Regions from separate parts of the Homo sapiens genome. Here region 2 is linked to region 1. The links come from fine-mapping of genetic effects on gene expression. Tissue or cell type: whole blood. Region 1 holds a variant in brackets; the other region holds the start of a gene. All regions are shown on one strand. Distances are between the middles of the regions.

What was found. PIP is the estimated chance that this variant, and not a neighbour inherited with it, causes the effect.
Region 2: CEBPA starts here. The variant in region 1 is fine-mapped to the expression of CEBPA in whole blood (INTERVAL, PIP 0.95).

Annotation. Positions count from the first base shown.
Region 1 is chr19:33,258,130-33,266,227 of GRCh38, reverse strand. No RefSeq gene overlaps it. Among named protein-coding and RNA genes, the nearest start is that of SLC7A10, 36 kb to the right of the region's middle. The variant C/T (reference allele first, on the strand shown) is at 3,891.
Region 2 is chr19:33,298,448-33,306,545 of GRCh38, reverse strand. It overlaps CEBPA (CCAAT enhancer binding protein alpha), which reads left to right and starts at 4,012. Exons shown (of 1, transcript NM_004364.5): 1 at 4,012-6,612. The coding sequence starts at 4,132. The coding sequence ends at 5,208. CEBPA-DT (CEBPA divergent transcript) reads right to left here and starts at 3,725. Exons shown (of 1, transcript NR_026887.2): 1 at 1,489-3,725. RefSeq lists silencers at 3,272-3,531, 3,612-4,181.

The DNA.
Region 1 (8,098 bases):
AAGGTCACCGAGGCATCCCTCGTGTCTTCCCACTGCATTTGGTGCACAGCACATGACTCTGGTTCTCTCTCATTCAGGGCCTGGTTATAGCAGAAAGTCTGGCTCTCACTGAGCAAGGACCCAGATGGGGACACTCAGAGAGGTGGGAAAGAATCTCCCCCACCCCGCCAAGGAGGGATGCAGCTGTGCTGTAAGTGATGGTTAAAGCCATCTTTAAGAGAGGCAGGGCGCCATGGCTCACTCTTCTAATACCAGTGCTTTAAGAGGCTGAGGCAGGAGAATTGCTTAAGGCCAGGACTTTGAGACTAGCCTGGGCAACACAGCCATCTCTACAAAAAATACAGAAATTGGCTGGGCATGGTGGTGCCCACCTGTAGTCTCAGCTACTCAGGAGGCTGAGGTGGGAGGATCACTTGAGCCCGGCAGTTTGCAGCTGCGGTGAGCTATGATCGCACCCCAGCACTCCAGCCTGGGAGACAGAGTGAGACACTGTCTCTAAAAAGAAAGAGGGAAGAGAGAAGATGCCCGTAGCTGCTTTAGGTGACAAACGGCCTTGAAGCCGTGAAGGCCCACTCCCTTCCACAGGGAATGCAGCCCCATCTCCGCAAGCCAGTCTCTGAGGCCACCCCTTCTTGCTTCCTCCGCCAGATACCCTGCCCAGCCCCCTCCCCCAAAATGAAGCCAGGTGGGGACCCTCTGTGCTGCTGGCCTCCAGGCCCTGCCCTGCTGCCCCTGCCTTCAGCCCCTACCACCCACACCACCCTGAAACCCTTCCTCTCCCTGGCCACTGTACCTCTCCCAGACCGGCGGTTTGCCTCCAGCTGGAGCCTCCTGGAGGCTGGGAGAGAACCCCTCGCCTGGGTTAACTTTAGTGGTGATTCTAGAAGCAGGACGCTGCTGAGGAAAAGGCCAAACTGTAGCTTTGTCCGCTCCACCCCAAGCCTTTGCCTGAGCTGGAACTTTCCTCTAACAAGCCCTGTAAGAGGAGCTTCACACCATGCTCCCTGTGTGAACCATGGTACCTGTGAGTATTGGCAATGATATTATGCCAATGTGCTATTATGTGCATTTAGCATAAAAGCCACTTGTAAGTAGTCACGTGGCAAGACCACGGCTGGGGCCCAGAGAATCCTGCTGGGGGCCCATAACATGGGATTGGCCCCCTGGAGCTAAGGCCAGGGCTGCAGTGCAGGAGGCCCACACCCGCAGGGGATCCTGCCCGAGGGGCAGGGCTGGATGAGAGGCAGTGAGCCCAGAGCATAGACAGAAGACAGTGGGCGTGTGTGTGTCTTGGTCACTGCGTGCGTCTCTAGGTAACTTTGGTTTGCACGTTTGTGAGGTTGAGCGTCTGTCAATGTGAGTTTCCGTGCATGGCTGGTGACTGCATTTGTGTGTCTGTGCATGGGCCTGGGTACATCCGTGTCTCTCGGTGTGTTTATGGATCTGTTCATTCAATCACTGCCTGGTGCGGCCAGGCCCTAGACAGACTGGAGGGCTCGGTCCCTGCCCCATCAGGCCCACAGTCTGGCAGGAGGTGAGCAGGAAGTAGGAATTACACCCATAATCCCTAGGCAGGATGGTGACAGGGGGAGCTCACGCCTCGAGGGTGGAAGCCCCGAGACAAGGGACCTGCTGCAGCTTGGCACTCGGGGACCCTGGATGCTTTCATGAAGGACAGGAAAGCCGAGTGCCATAGGAGGCATGGGAGTTGTCATGGGGAGGAGAGTTTTCCAGGCAGAGGGGAGAGCATTTGCAAAAGCCGGGGCACTGAGGAGGGGTCGAGGCAGAACTGCAGGTGCTAGGAAGCCAAGGGGTGTGGGAGGTGAGGGCAGGAAGGACAGGAGCTAGACACGCAAGCCTGGAGGCCACCATGATAATGGTGGCTGCTTCCTAGAACCGTGGGAAGGTGAAGTTCGGAAAGCAGCCCGATCATGTGGTCATTTAATAATACGACCATTCTGGGCCGGGCACGGTGGCTCACGCCTGTAATCCCAGCACTTTGGGAGGCCAAGGCGGGCAGATCACGAGGTCAGGAGATCGAGACCATCCCGGCTAACACAGTGAAACCCCATCTCCACTAAAAATACAAAAAATTAGCCGGGGGTGGTGGCGGGCACCTGTAGTCCCAGCTACTCGGGAGGCTGAGGCAGGAGAATGGCGTGAACCTGGGAGGCGGAGCTTGCAGTGAGCTGACACTGCACCACTGCACTCCAGCCTGGGCGACAGAGCAAGACTCCATCTCAAAAAAATAAAATAAAATAAAATAATAATAATAATATGGCCACTCTGTTGGCTAAGAGCCTGGATGAGGCCAGAGCTGCCATCCCATGAAGAGAGATGGTGGCTGGGGACGTGGGGCGGCAGGGGAAGACGTGGACAGGTGCGGGCATGCAGAGGCAATGGAAGGGTGACAGGCAAGGCCTGGCGACGGCTCAGGTGTCAAGGGCCAGGAGGTGTACATGCTGTGTGTGCACACGTGTGCACGTGAGCCTGTACAAACGCCTGCCAGGAGCTCAGGCCAGGCCCTCTCTCCTCTCCCTCTCCCCTCTCCAATCTCTTGCCCGTGTCCCCCACAGCCTCGCCGCGGACATGACAGTGACGGTAAGAAGGACTCAGTGTTGCAACTGCATTTCCTCTCGAACCCAGGGCCGCCAGAGATTAGCTGAGAGCCCCGTGTGCACTGGGCGATAACACCCCCACCACTCCCCCCGCTTCCTAATCTCTGATTCATTTCCAACTGATAACAGCATGAGGGCCCATGGGCGACGAAGAAACACCCCAGTGGGTCCTACCAAGGCCACTGTCAAGCCACGTGCAGGGACTCCGGGGAGCAGAGACAGGGAGGGCGAAGACCAGGGGTGATTGCAGAGGCAGAGACAGAGAGAGGAAGAAAGAGAATGAGAAGAGAGAGAGAAAATGAAAATGGGGAGAGAATGAGAGAGGGGGAGAAAGAGAGGGAGGGGAGGGCAGCGGGAATGGTCGACGGGTGCAAAAATATGGTTAGGTAGAATGACTAAGATCCAGGATTGATGCATGCAGGCCTTAATACCCAGGTGATGGGTTGATCTGTGCAGCAAACCACCATGGCACGCGTTGACCTATGTAACAAATCTGCACGTCCTGCACATGTATCCCAGAACTTAAAATAATTTTTTTAAAAAAAAGATTCAGTATTTAATAGCACAACAGGGTGATGACAGTCACCAAGAATTTACTGTACATTTAAAAATAATTAAAAGAGCATGATGAGAATGTTTGTAACACAGAGAAAAGATAAATGCTTGAGGGACGGAGACCCCATTAACCCTGATGGATCATGACACATTGCATGCCTGTATTAAAGTATGTCATGTACCCCGTAGATATATGCACCTGCTATGGACCCATACAAATAAAATAAAAAGAAAGAGGAAAGGAAAGAGAATGAAAATGAGAGACAGACAGAGAGAGAGTGAGGATAAGGGGGAGATGGAGACAGGCGGAGAGAGACAGAGAGACACAAACCCCCCAGGTCAGGGCAGGGTGACGAGGAAGAGAGAGGAAACAAGGACAGTGGTGGAGGGACAGACTGACAAATGTGTGCAGATACAGAGAGGGGCTGGGGGGTCCTGGGGGCTAGAAGGACTTACTAAAGTGATAGAGAAACAGAAAAACAGGCCAGGCACAGTGGCTCATGCCTGTAATCCCAGCACTTTGGGAGGCTGAGGCAGGCAGATTACTTGAGGTCAGGAGTTCAAGACCAGCCTGGTCAACATGGCAAAACCCCATCTCTACTAAAAATACAAAATTAGCCAGGCGTGGTGGCGCACACCTGTAATCCCAGCTACTCGGGAGGCTGAGGCAGGAGAATCGCTTGAGCCCAAGAGGTGGAGGTTGCAGTGAGCCAAGAT[C/T]GTGCCACTGCACTCCAGCCTGGGCAACAGAGTGAGATTTTGTCTCAAAATAAGAAACAGAAAAACAGAGAGAAGGGACTGAGTGAGAGCAAGAAAGGGAAGAGGTGACCCAAGGTCAGGAGACAGAGGGAGTGAAAAGGAGAGAGCAAGACGGTGAGTGGTGGGGTGCGAGGCTGGATGGGCCCTCCCTGGCCCTGCCCATACTGCCTAGACACCATGGGTTAGGGCAGGACAATGATTTTACTGGCTCGACCCCTGCCAGGTACAGGCCTCAGCTGGGGCAGGGTGGCAGGGACAGCACACACCCCTGACCAGTCCAGAGAGCCCCAACCCTCAGGTGGGGCAGGCAGGGCTGTGGGCTGCACAGAGCTGAGCGGGGCGGATGGAGCCATGCTCCTTGTCCATGGACTCGGCCAGAGCCAAGGAGACAGAGCAACCCATCGGGTCTATGTGGATCCTGACGGGGTCTGGCAGGGCTGGACAGTCAAGGTTCGGGGGTCTGGGCTCAACCCCAGGGCTGTGATGGCGTGGCAGCCATCTGTGCTTTCCCAGAGCAGGCAGGAAGTGCCTGCAGGGAGCTGGAACCGCAGTGCTGGTGCTCAGGGCTGGGACAGGAGGGAGCCGGTTTCCCTCCACTCCCCTCCCCAACCGAGCACTCCCCTGGGTTCACAGTCTGGGTCATGTGGTGATGCTGAGAGTTTAGTGGAAGAGGAAATGGGAGCTCCAGGAACTACAGAGGCCCGGCCACCTCCCTTGCTCCTAAGCCCCTGCACCAGATCCCCCCTAAGTATAGAAGAGGGGTACAGACAGCTGCCCACCAGAGGGGCGCCAGGGCCTGGGAAGGATCTCACAGGCTCCTGGGCTCAGGCCTTCCTTTGGGGATGAAGAGGGTTCCCAGAGCAGCCAAGCCAGGGGCTCCGGGCTTAGCAGAGGGGAAGGGGCAGGGGGTGCCCCCTCCACCGACCCCAGTGCTCAGAGCTGGTGGGAGAAGGGGGCCCTATGCAGAGGGAACTTGACGAGCAGGTGCCAGAGAAGCAGAGGCTGAGGAGCAAATCACGAAGCCCAGGGGGACTTCACTCTGAGTGCAGAGAGGAGCCCAGGGGCACTCCCAAGCAGGGGAGCTTCAGTGCTGTTGGTGTTCTAGTATGTTCCTCCATCCCCCCCAGGCCTTCAGCCCAATGCATGAAGGCTGGCAGCACATGGGGCCCAGCCAGGGACCCCAGCTCCTTGCCCCTCCAAGCTAGGGCAGTCACCCCTCTGATTTGCCGTGCCCGCCCTGATGCCCTGCCTGCCGCGACCACAGGAAGCACTGCCCCAGCTCAGCACTTCCCTTTTCTGAAATCTGCCCCCAGCAGCCCGGTGGCCAGGGAAGACAGACTTCCCGCTGCCCCCCCGGGCTCTTCCCACCGGTCACAAGTGGTTTGTTCCTGAGCTTCCCTGGGCAGAGGTGACCTTCTTGCCTCAACCACAGATCAGTTATTTATCAGAACAGGAAAGATGGCACCAGAGATATGTCCTCACCGCCCCCAGGAGGGCCTGGCCTGCTCCAACGACCACACGCCCGTTCCCCACATCATACGGGGCCTGCTCACCACATCACACAGGCGTGCGTGTGGCTGGCGCGTGTGTGCAGGGCTGCACCAGGGAGGGGCCGGGTGGGAGGCCTCGTGGGCAGATCGGGTGGGATGTGGGATGCACCCTGGCTCGTGGGCTCAGATGAGGCTCCCTGTGCCAGCCGGGAGCAGTCAGGATATCTGGCGTCCTCCAGATCTGATGAAAGACATCCTTCCTCCAGTCCCAGCCTCAGCTCCAAGCTTCCCCACAGGGAATACCCTGGGATAGGGCCTTAGCCAGCTTCTCTATCCCTCTACCCAGAGCGGACAGAGGGCTCACCCCCTCGGGATTCAGGACTCACTGTGGGTGTTTGGGGTTGGATACTTCTGTGTTGTTAGGGCCATTCCGTGCATTATAAGATATTTAGCTGCATCTCTGGCCTATATCCACTAGACACCAGGAACAATTTTCCCATCACCACCACCAATTGCAATGATCAAAAATGTCTCCAGGGCACGGTGGTTCATGCTTGTAATCTTAGCACTTTGGGAGGCAGAGACGGGAGGATCTCTTGAGCCCAGGAGTTCGAGACCAGCCTGGGCAACATAGCAAGACCCCTCTCTCTTCAAAAAATATAAGTATTAGCCAGGTATGGCGGGGCACACCTGGAGTTCCAGCTACTCAAGAGGCTGAGGCAGGAGGATCGCTTAAGCCCAGGAGGTTCAGGCTGCAGTGAGCTAGGATCATACCACTGCACTCCAGCGTGGGTGACATAGTGAGACCCCTTCTCTTAAAAGAAATGTCTGCAGACATGTCAAATGTCTCCTGAGAGTACAAGACTATCCTAGGTCAAGAATCAGTGATCCAGGTGCACCAAAAGACCCTGGCTTCCATGACTAAAAAGTTCTAGGTCTCAGTTGGCCTGCGTCACAATTTTTTTTTTTGCTAGAAAGCTATGGACTAAGTTGACTAATGAGTCAGAGCCTGGAGTTCTTGGGAGGTGGAGGCTGTGCCCGTCTGCAGGATCTGTGCTGTAGGGCCTGCTCTGGGGCTCTGAGCACAACTGCCTTGCAGAGCCTGGAGCCGGAAAGAGCACCCTTGTGACCGGAAGGGAGATGGTGAAACTGGGAGGTTTTATTCAAGAGCAGATCCAGGAGCTGTATCATGGAACGTAAGTGAGGCACCTTGGAGCCACAAGGCCCAGGGTTGGGGGCTTAGGCTAGAAAGAACGGGAAAAACTTCAGAATCAGGGCAGAACACAGGGCCAGGATATGAGTCCTGGACTCCCCGAGGTGGCGAGCTGGAACCGACCCCCTTCAATAAACTGCAGGGCTGGAAGGGCTGCTCTGTACAAAAGGGATGTGTAAAGCTGATCCGAAAAAAGTAGTAGCAAGGCCAACGTAGTGGCTCATGCCTGTAATCCCAGCACTCTGGGAGGCTGAGGCAGGTGGATCATTTGAGGTCAGGAGTTCAAGACCAGCCTGGGCAACATGGCAAAACCCCATCTCTACAAAAAATACAAAAATTAGCTGGGAGTGGTGGCACATACCTGTAGTCCCAGCTACTCAGGAGACAGAGGTGGAAGGATCTTGCTTGAGCTTGGGAGGTGGAGGTTGCCATGAGCCAAGATCACATCACTGCACTCCAGCCTGGACAACAGAGCAACACTCAATCTCAAAAAAAAATAATAAAAAATTAAAAAAAAGAAGTGCTAGTGAAGCTTTCTATCCTCCTGAGGCAATGGCAGGAAAAAGTTAAGTGTGGATTCAAATGTACACAGTCCAATAGTTCTAAAACTCCAAATCCAGAAATTAACATAAAAATGTATATACAGCCATGGCTGGGTGTAGTAGCTCACACCCATAATCCCAGCACTTTAGGAGGCCGTGGTAGGCAGATCATGAGGTCAGGAGTTCAAGGCCAGCCTGGTCAACGTGGTGAAACCCTGTCTCTACTAAAAATACAAAAATTAGCCGTGCGTGGTGGCACACACCTGTGGTCCCAGCTACTTGGGAGGCTGAGGCAGAAGAATCGCTTGAACACGGGAGGTGGAGGTTGCAGTGAGCAGAGATGGCACCACTGCACTCCACCCTGGGGGACAGAGCGAGACTCCATCTCAAAAAAAAAGAAAAATGTATATACAGCCATGAAAGAAACTTACTTCCAAGCTACTTTGCATGGACACTTTCACAGCCCAGACACAGATCCACAGGAAAATTAACCCCGATGAAGATGAGCTCACAATAAAAAGTAATCATGAATGACGCAAAAAAGCAAGCAACTATGTCAGTGGGAGATCTTAGATCTAGAGATATTAGAACAATTTGTAAAAGACTACATAATAATAAGTATACTTACATAATAAGTATACTTACATAATAATAAGTATACTTAAAATAATTAAGATAGAAAAGAGAGTGGAAGACATAATAAAAATATTATTTTAAAATAACAAGTAGATTTCAAAAGAAATCAAAGAGTCCTTCAAAAAATACTCATTGCAGTATAATATAGAAGCTCAGCGAATATAGCAAATTAGTTGCAGCTCAAAGGGGAATAAGAAAAATATAAAGCATATCTGAGGAAATTTCATGACATGCAGCACACAGATATGAAAACAAGGAATATATGAGAGTCTAAGATTCTTGGAGATA
Region 2 (8,098 bases), 40 kb before region 1:
GTGGGCCTTGCATTAGGAAGGTTAAACCAAAGTAAAATAAAACATTTCTAGGGCTCTGTTTGTCTTCTCAAAATGGTTAGTGCTGTGATTGACTCCAGAATCAGGCTTCATCCTGGAGCATCCAAAACTCAGGACCACCGTTTCCCGGGGACTCACGCTCAACCCCCCACACTGGGCCTGTGTACACCCCCATCCACAGCCTCAGGAAGAAGGACCTTAAAGGTGGTCACAGAAGAATTTACAAGCTGCTCTTAGGACTGGCTTTGTCTCAGTTGCACATGAGCCAGAGCCACTTCTCCCAATCAAAGGTGATTTCTCCTTTGCTCCCACTTCTCCAGCCACAAGCCAACTGTCTATGAGACTGTCAGACATCAGCCCCCTCTCCCTTACCCTGTGGGACTCTCCCATGGAAAGTGCCTCCATCGACCCCAGGGTCTCACCCCAACTCCCCAGCTAATTTCCTGCTTTAGGGCTTGGGCAGGACACTTCTATCTAGGGCCCTAGACACCCCCTGTCCTCTGAGAACCCCGCCAGGCCTAGCCAGAGACCTACCACTTGCCCTCAAAACCATTTCCTCCTCATCCCGAGGTACACTTTTAGGCTTCCAAGGAAAAACCAGAACATGGTAGATGGATCTTCGCAACTGCTCCAAGGTCTTCCCCTCCAAAACCACAAAGCAGGCAGGTGAGTATCCTGGAATGAGTCCCCAGTGGCCTCCTGGGGGCTTGGAGAGGGGCCTCCAATTTCCTGGGCATTATATGTGTCAGGGGGTGGTAATCCCAGCCAGAAGCCTGGCATTCAGCCCCCAAGTCCTGACATCTTGTTCTAATCTACCCTGCCCGCTCATTACTGGGGCAATACAAGTCTCCATCCTTTCCCATCTGGTCAACACCCCCTCTCCGTCTTGGCCAGAGTAGATTCTCAGGAACCCAAATCCGACAACGAAGCTCCCCTGCTAAAATCTGGAGGTCAAAAGCCTGGGAGATAAGGGTTCCCCCTTCACCTGCAGTGGCCTTGGCCATCAGCCCAGCCCTGTCTGCGGATCCAGCCTTATCTAGGCCCCACCCTCCCTCACCCCACTCTCCAGCCGGCCAACCATCTCGTTCTTTGTTACCAGAACACATGCACTGGCAGGCTCTCCACCTTTGCACTTACCATTCCCTCCTCCTAGAAGAGCCTTCCTCCCTTATCCTTCCAGCAAATTCCTGCTCAACTTTCAAGGCCCAGCTCAAAGGTCTGCTCCTGCATGAAGCCCTGTCTCACCGCCGGTTCAGTCCAAGCAGGCTGCCATCATAGACCTACCATAAACATTTATTTCTCATGGTTCTGGAGGCTGGATGCCCAAGGCCAAAGCCAAGCTGCCAGCACCCTCAGGTTCTGGTGAGGGGCCTCTTCCCTGCTTGCAGACGGCCACCTCCTTTCTGTGCATGCCCATGACATTGTTCTTCTGATAAGGCCACCAATCCTATCAAATTAGGACCCTACCCATATGACATCATCTCACTTTAATGACTTCCTAAAAGCCTTATCTCCAAATACAGTCACATGGGGGTTAGGCCTTCAACATAGGAATTTGGGGCAGGGACACAGTTCAGTCCATAACACCTCCGCAGACAAATCTGATCTCTGCCTCCTCCACAGCGCCACCTTGTTCAGGGCAGGACTTCTCTTCATCACAGCACATCCACCCTTGATTCCCATTTGTGCCTCGTGTGCATTTGATGAATGAATGAAGTCCCATCCCCTACTCCTTCTGTCTCCTCCTTCCTCCCAGCAGCCTCTGTGTGACAACTTATCCGTCTCTCCCACTGTCCCAGTTCCCAGAGGCAGGAGCCACCCTCTCATGCATCCCTGGGCTCTCGGCACCCTGCACAGGGCAGGCCCGGGTGGGTGAATTCTGGTTCAATTGTAGGAGGACCTGTGGCCCCTGGGGTTGGCGAACCCCGGGCCGGGAGTCCCACTCCTTGCCATTGTCGCCCCCACACATTCATCAGCCCCCTATTGGACAAAGTCTTATTCCCATTACTGAGGTTTCTTCCAGTCCTACGGGGCAGAGTTCCCGATCTCTGGGCAGGCAACAGCAGCTGTGCAAAAAAGGCCAGACATCGCCTTCCTCCCACAACTCCACAGGCCGGGAACCGTGCATGTACAGTGGCGTTTCTTTGTTCCTAGGTAGGAAAAGCCATTAGTTTTAGCACCGCAGAAAAAAACGCAAATCGCTCTTGGTGCTTTTTGATTTCCGTCCAGGTCTCCCTCCACAGGTGAATGCTATATGAATGGGTCCTGCATTTGGCTCAGCAAGCAGCTCTCCGGCTCACATCGGGATATTTATTTAACGTATCTGGTTTTTACTCCCTCCCGTCCAAAAGCGTCAAGCTAAAAATATCTTGTTTATGAGCTCTGGACCGAAAACGAAGCAGTTGGGCTATTAATCACTGGGACTATGTTGAATAGGAACTTGATTAAAGCGCAGTGTGCGTTGCCCAGATGAAACTGCTTCTTTACTGCGATCGTCGTGGAAGCTCGGGGCTCTCCAGCGGTGTTTTTAGCTGTGCCCCCTCCGGGGCTCCTGGGCGGGTCGTGGCGCCTTGCCAGGCCTAAGGCCACTGTCGGTGAAGGGGGTCTTCCCTCACCTGTAGGCAAGCGCGCCTCTAGCCGGGACGCAGGCGGCGTCAGGCCTCAGCGCCAGTGGCGAGGGGCGGCGCGGGCAAGGACAGGAGACACTTGAGGGCTCCCAAGACTCCATCTGGGCCCAGCTGACGGTCCGTAGCCGCCACCCCGGCCCCGGTAAAGAATGCGAGGGACGCACGTGGCTGGGGGTCTCGGTGGCAAGCTCCTTCCCCCGCCGCGGTGAGAGCATTAGCTGCCGCACTCAAGGGGCCCCAGGGCCTGGCCGCCTCGGTCCCTAGGATCCCGGGGACTACAGCGCCCGGCGAACCACTGGGCAGAGTTCTCCCTGTGCGTGCTCGGACCTGGCAGCCCGGCGGCCTGGACACCCTCGCTCCCGCCGTTGGCGCCCACCTGAATGGGGAGGCGGGGGAGGAAGCGGTGGCTTCGGGCCTCGAGGGCTGCGGCCCCCGCCTCGGAATCCCGGCCCCAGAGTTAAGTTTGTCTCCTCCCTCGGTGCGCCCCTCCCCGTGCTCGCCCCGGCGTCCAGCTCCGCTAGTCTGGGGGGCCCCGCGGTCCCGCAGGAAAAAAAATCGGCGACTCCACGCCGGGTAACAGCGCCGGCCCCGCGCGCCTAGCAAGCCGCGCGCTCCGACCTGGAGAAGTAATTATAAAGAAAGTTTTCCAGCCCGGGCGGATCGACCGGCCAGGTCCTCCAGGCTCCCGGGCCGAGGCCGCCTCCGCTCCCCGCGGGGTCCTAGCGCCCTGCGCGGCGCCGCCCATGGGACCCCGGCGTCCTCCGAGAGGTACCTCTGCGCGGAATCACAGGGGTAGCCTGGAGATCAGAGCTAGGAGACGCAGAGCCACCGCGCTCAGGACCTCTCCGCGCGTCCCAAACGGCCCCCCACCGGCCCCAGCCCCGCTGCTCTGCGCTGCAGCCTCCCCGGGACGCGGGTCCGGGACAGGCCTGGTTCTGGCTTTGAAAGAGAATCCGCGCCCCAGCAGCTCAAGACCAAGACTCGCCCTCCGCCCCCCACCCCTACCCCGTGCAGCCTCGGGATACTCCTGGGCTCCCGGCCGTGGCTGGATACGGGCGCCTAGGGCAGGCAGGAGGAGGGGGCCCCCGCTACCGACCACGTGGGCGCGGGGGCGACGGCCGGGCCGGGGGCGGAGCTTGGAGCGAGCGCCGCGGCTCTGCTGGGCGCGCTGGAGGCGGTGGGCGTTGCGCCGCGGCCTGCCTGGGGAGCGCGGCGCTGTGCCGCGCTGGTTCGCCGCCCCATGCCGGCCGCGCGCTAGGACCCAGCAGGCGCCGCGCCGCCGCAGCCCGGGGACAGAGGCCGCCTCGGACTCTAGGGGGCGACGCGGCCTGCCGGGTATAAAAGCTGGGCCGGCGCGGGCCGGGCCATTCGCGACCCGGAGGTGCGCGGGCGCGGGCGAGCAGGGTCTCCGGGTGGGCGGCGGCGACGCCCCGCGCAGGCTGGAGGCCGCCGAGGCTCGCCATGCCGGGAGAACTCTAACTCCCCCATGGAGTCGGCCGACTTCTACGAGGCGGAGCCGCGGCCCCCGATGAGCAGCCACCTGCAGAGCCCCCCGCACGCGCCCAGCAGCGCCGCCTTCGGCTTTCCCCGGGGCGCGGGCCCCGCGCAGCCTCCCGCCCCACCTGCCGCCCCGGAGCCGCTGGGCGGCATCTGCGAGCACGAGACGTCCATCGACATCAGCGCCTACATCGACCCGGCCGCCTTCAACGACGAGTTCCTGGCCGACCTGTTCCAGCACAGCCGGCAGCAGGAGAAGGCCAAGGCGGCCGTGGGCCCCACGGGCGGCGGCGGCGGCGGCGACTTTGACTACCCGGGCGCGCCCGCGGGCCCCGGCGGCGCCGTCATGCCCGGGGGAGCGCACGGGCCCCCGCCCGGCTACGGCTGCGCGGCCGCCGGCTACCTGGACGGCAGGCTGGAGCCCCTGTACGAGCGCGTCGGGGCGCCGGCGCTGCGGCCGCTGGTGATCAAGCAGGAGCCCCGCGAGGAGGATGAAGCCAAGCAGCTGGCGCTGGCCGGCCTCTTCCCTTACCAGCCGCCGCCGCCGCCGCCGCCCTCGCACCCGCACCCGCACCCGCCGCCCGCGCACCTGGCCGCCCCGCACCTGCAGTTCCAGATCGCGCACTGCGGCCAGACCACCATGCACCTGCAGCCCGGTCACCCCACGCCGCCGCCCACGCCCGTGCCCAGCCCGCACCCCGCGCCCGCGCTCGGTGCCGCCGGCCTGCCGGGCCCTGGCAGCGCGCTCAAGGGGCTGGGCGCCGCGCACCCCGACCTCCGCGCGAGTGGCGGCAGCGGCGCGGGCAAGGCCAAGAAGTCGGTGGACAAGAACAGCAACGAGTACCGGGTGCGGCGCGAGCGCAACAACATCGCGGTGCGCAAGAGCCGCGACAAGGCCAAGCAGCGCAACGTGGAGACGCAGCAGAAGGTGCTGGAGCTGACCAGTGACAATGACCGCCTGCGCAAGCGGGTGGAACAGCTGAGCCGCGAACTGGACACGCTGCGGGGCATCTTCCGCCAGCTGCCAGAGAGCTCCTTGGTCAAGGCCATGGGCAACTGCGCGTGAGGCGCGCGGCTGTGGGACCGCCCTGGGCCAGCCTCCGGCGGGGACCCAGGGAGTGGTTTGGGGTCGCCGGATCTCGAGGCTTGCCCGAGCCGTGCGAGCCAGGACTAGGAGATTCCGGTGCCTCCTGAAAGCCTGGCCTGCTCCGCGTGTCCCCTCCCTTCCTCTGCGCCGGACTTGGTGCGTCTAAGATGAGGGGGCCAGGCGGTGGCTTCTCCCTGCGAGGAGGGGAGAATTCTTGGGGCTGAGCTGGGAGCCCGGCAACTCTAGTATTTAGGATAACCTTGTGCCTTGGAAATGCAAACTCACCGCTCCAATGCCTACTGAGTAGGGGGAGCAAATCGTGCCTTGTCATTTTATTTGGAGGTTTCCTGCCTCCTTCCCGAGGCTACAGCAGACCCCCATGAGAGAAGGAGGGGAGCAGGCCCGTGGCAGGAGGAGGGCTCAGGGAGCTGAGATCCCGACAAGCCCGCCAGCCCCAGCCGCTCCTCCACGCCTGTCCTTAGAAAGGGGTGGAAACATAGGGACTTGGGGCTTGGAACCTAAGGTTGTTCCCCTAGTTCTACATGAAGGTGGAGGGTCTCTAGTTCCACGCCTCTCCCACCTCCCTCCGCACACACCCCACCCCAGCCTGCTATAGGCTGGGCTTCCCCTTGGGGCGGAACTCACTGCGATGGGGGTCACCAGGTGACCAGTGGGAGCCCCCACCCCGAGTCACACCAGAAAGCTAGGTCGTGGGTCAGCTCTGAGGATGTATACCCCTGGTGGGAGAGGGAGACCTAGAGATCTGGCTGTGGGGCGGGCATGGGGGGTGAAGGGCCACTGGGACCCTCAGCCTTGTTTGTACTGTATGCCTTCAGCATTGCCTAGGAACACGAAGCACGATCAGTCCATCCCAGAGGGACCGGAGTTATGACAAGCTTTCCAAATATTTTGCTTTATCAGCCGATATCAACACTTGTATCTGGCCTCTGTGCCCCAGCAGTGCCTTGTGCAATGTGAATGTGCGCGTCTCTGCTAAACCACCATTTTATTTGGTTTTTGTTTTGTTTTGGTTTTGCTCGGATACTTGCCAAAATGAGACTCTCCGTCGGCAGCTGGGGGAAGGGTCTGAGACTCCCTTTCCTTTTGGTTTTGGGATTACTTTTGATCCTGGGGGACCAATGAGGTGAGGGGGGTTCTCCTTTGCCCTCAGCTTTCCCCAGCCCCTCCGGCCTGGGCTGCCCACAAGGCTTGTCCCCCAGAGGCCCTGGCTCCTGGTCGGGAAGGGAGGTGGCCTCCCGCCAACGCATCACTGGGGCTGGGAGCAGGGAAGGACGGCTTGGTTCTCTTCTTTTGGGGAGAACGTAGAGTCTCACTCTAGATGTTTTATGTATTATATCTATAATATAAACATATCAAAGTCAATGTCGGTGTCTTTTTAAAACCAGAAAGAAGCTACTTCCAAGGTTGTCTGTGGGCCAGGTCACATTTGTAAATAATACAGCATTTTCCCTGGCGGCAATCCTGACTTTCATGAGCTCTCCATCCATCCTGAGCCCCTCTTACCCTAAGGGGGTGACTTACTTCCCCCAGGCAAGACAAATAAATAGCAGAGGACAAGGCTCCAAATGGAGTATGTCCAGAGCCTGAAGGCAGTCTCTTGGGGTCAGGGGAGGGGGCTGAAGGGGTTACTGGGCTGAGGCCTTGGCGAGGCTTCTTATCTGCCCCGGGGAGGAGGAGAGGGAGTCCTCTGCCTGAGGGGTAGGCCTGGCTAAGCAGCCCTAGGCTCAAGGAGCCCTTTGTGCAGACTTCCTTGCAAATCACCTACAGCTGCAGCCCTGGCCACTCACACACACCGCAGCTCCAGATTCCAGCAGGACCCTCGGCCAGCAGGAAGAGGCCTCCAGTGGTAGGACCCTCCAACCCTCTCCTCTTTCCCTAGACCATGTGGCTACACCCTACCCCTGCGAGGCCCGAAGGCAGCCTGAAGAGAGAGACCCCTCCATCCAGCCCTCCACACCTGCCCAGCCCCAGCCCTCACAAGAAAGGGGGCTGAGGCAGGCCTGCAACAGGGGTCTGGTCCTGCCCCACACACTGGCTGTTCAAGAACCCACCCAGCATCCACACTCCCCACTGCATTCATCCCAGACCCAGCAGGGGACTGAGTGCTGGTGTGCCCCCAACTCCAATGAGCACCCTGTAAGGTCAGGCACTCCGGCACCCCCTTAGCAGCAGTGACAGCCAAGCAAGGGAGGGCAGCCCTTATCCCTGAACTAACAAGGCCCGGGAGAAAGAGGCCCAGGAGGCTGATGGTGCTTTTCAGATTTTACCCTCACGGAGGGTAAAAGATAAATTGCACTTTTCTTTTTTTTTTAACTCTGTACCGAGAGAATGTTCACTGAGTGGCTTACTGTGTGTACCAATGCGGGCTGGGGCATTTTCGAGAAATTACACATTCCTTTTACACTCTGGAAGCTTAGCTTTACCTGCCTGCGTGGTTAGCTGGCACCCCTTCCGGCCCCCCACTCTGTCCTGTGTCTGGCCGCCTCCTCACCCACGGCCGCCCTTGGCAGAGGAGAGGCCACGAGCCCAGTGAGGAGGCGGCGCCTGCCCCGCCACCCTGGGAACAGAGGAGGCAGAGCCCCGCCGCGTGCCCCGAGGCCTGGGGCAGGTCGCAGCTTGCTAAGCCCCAGCAAACCCTCTGAGTTCAGTGCTAATTCCAGTTTTTCTTGTTTGAGGGGGCTGATCCCTGGCTTCCCCCTTTCCCCCCAGAACAGGTCCTAGGACGGGAGGGGGTGGGGCGACCCTCCTGCCCTCACTCCTTCCCCTCCTCTCTGCTGTGCCAGCCCGCTAGGGGCTTCCTCTTTTAAAGCTGATGGCTCCCGGAAGGGATCCCTCCTACCCCGAGTCC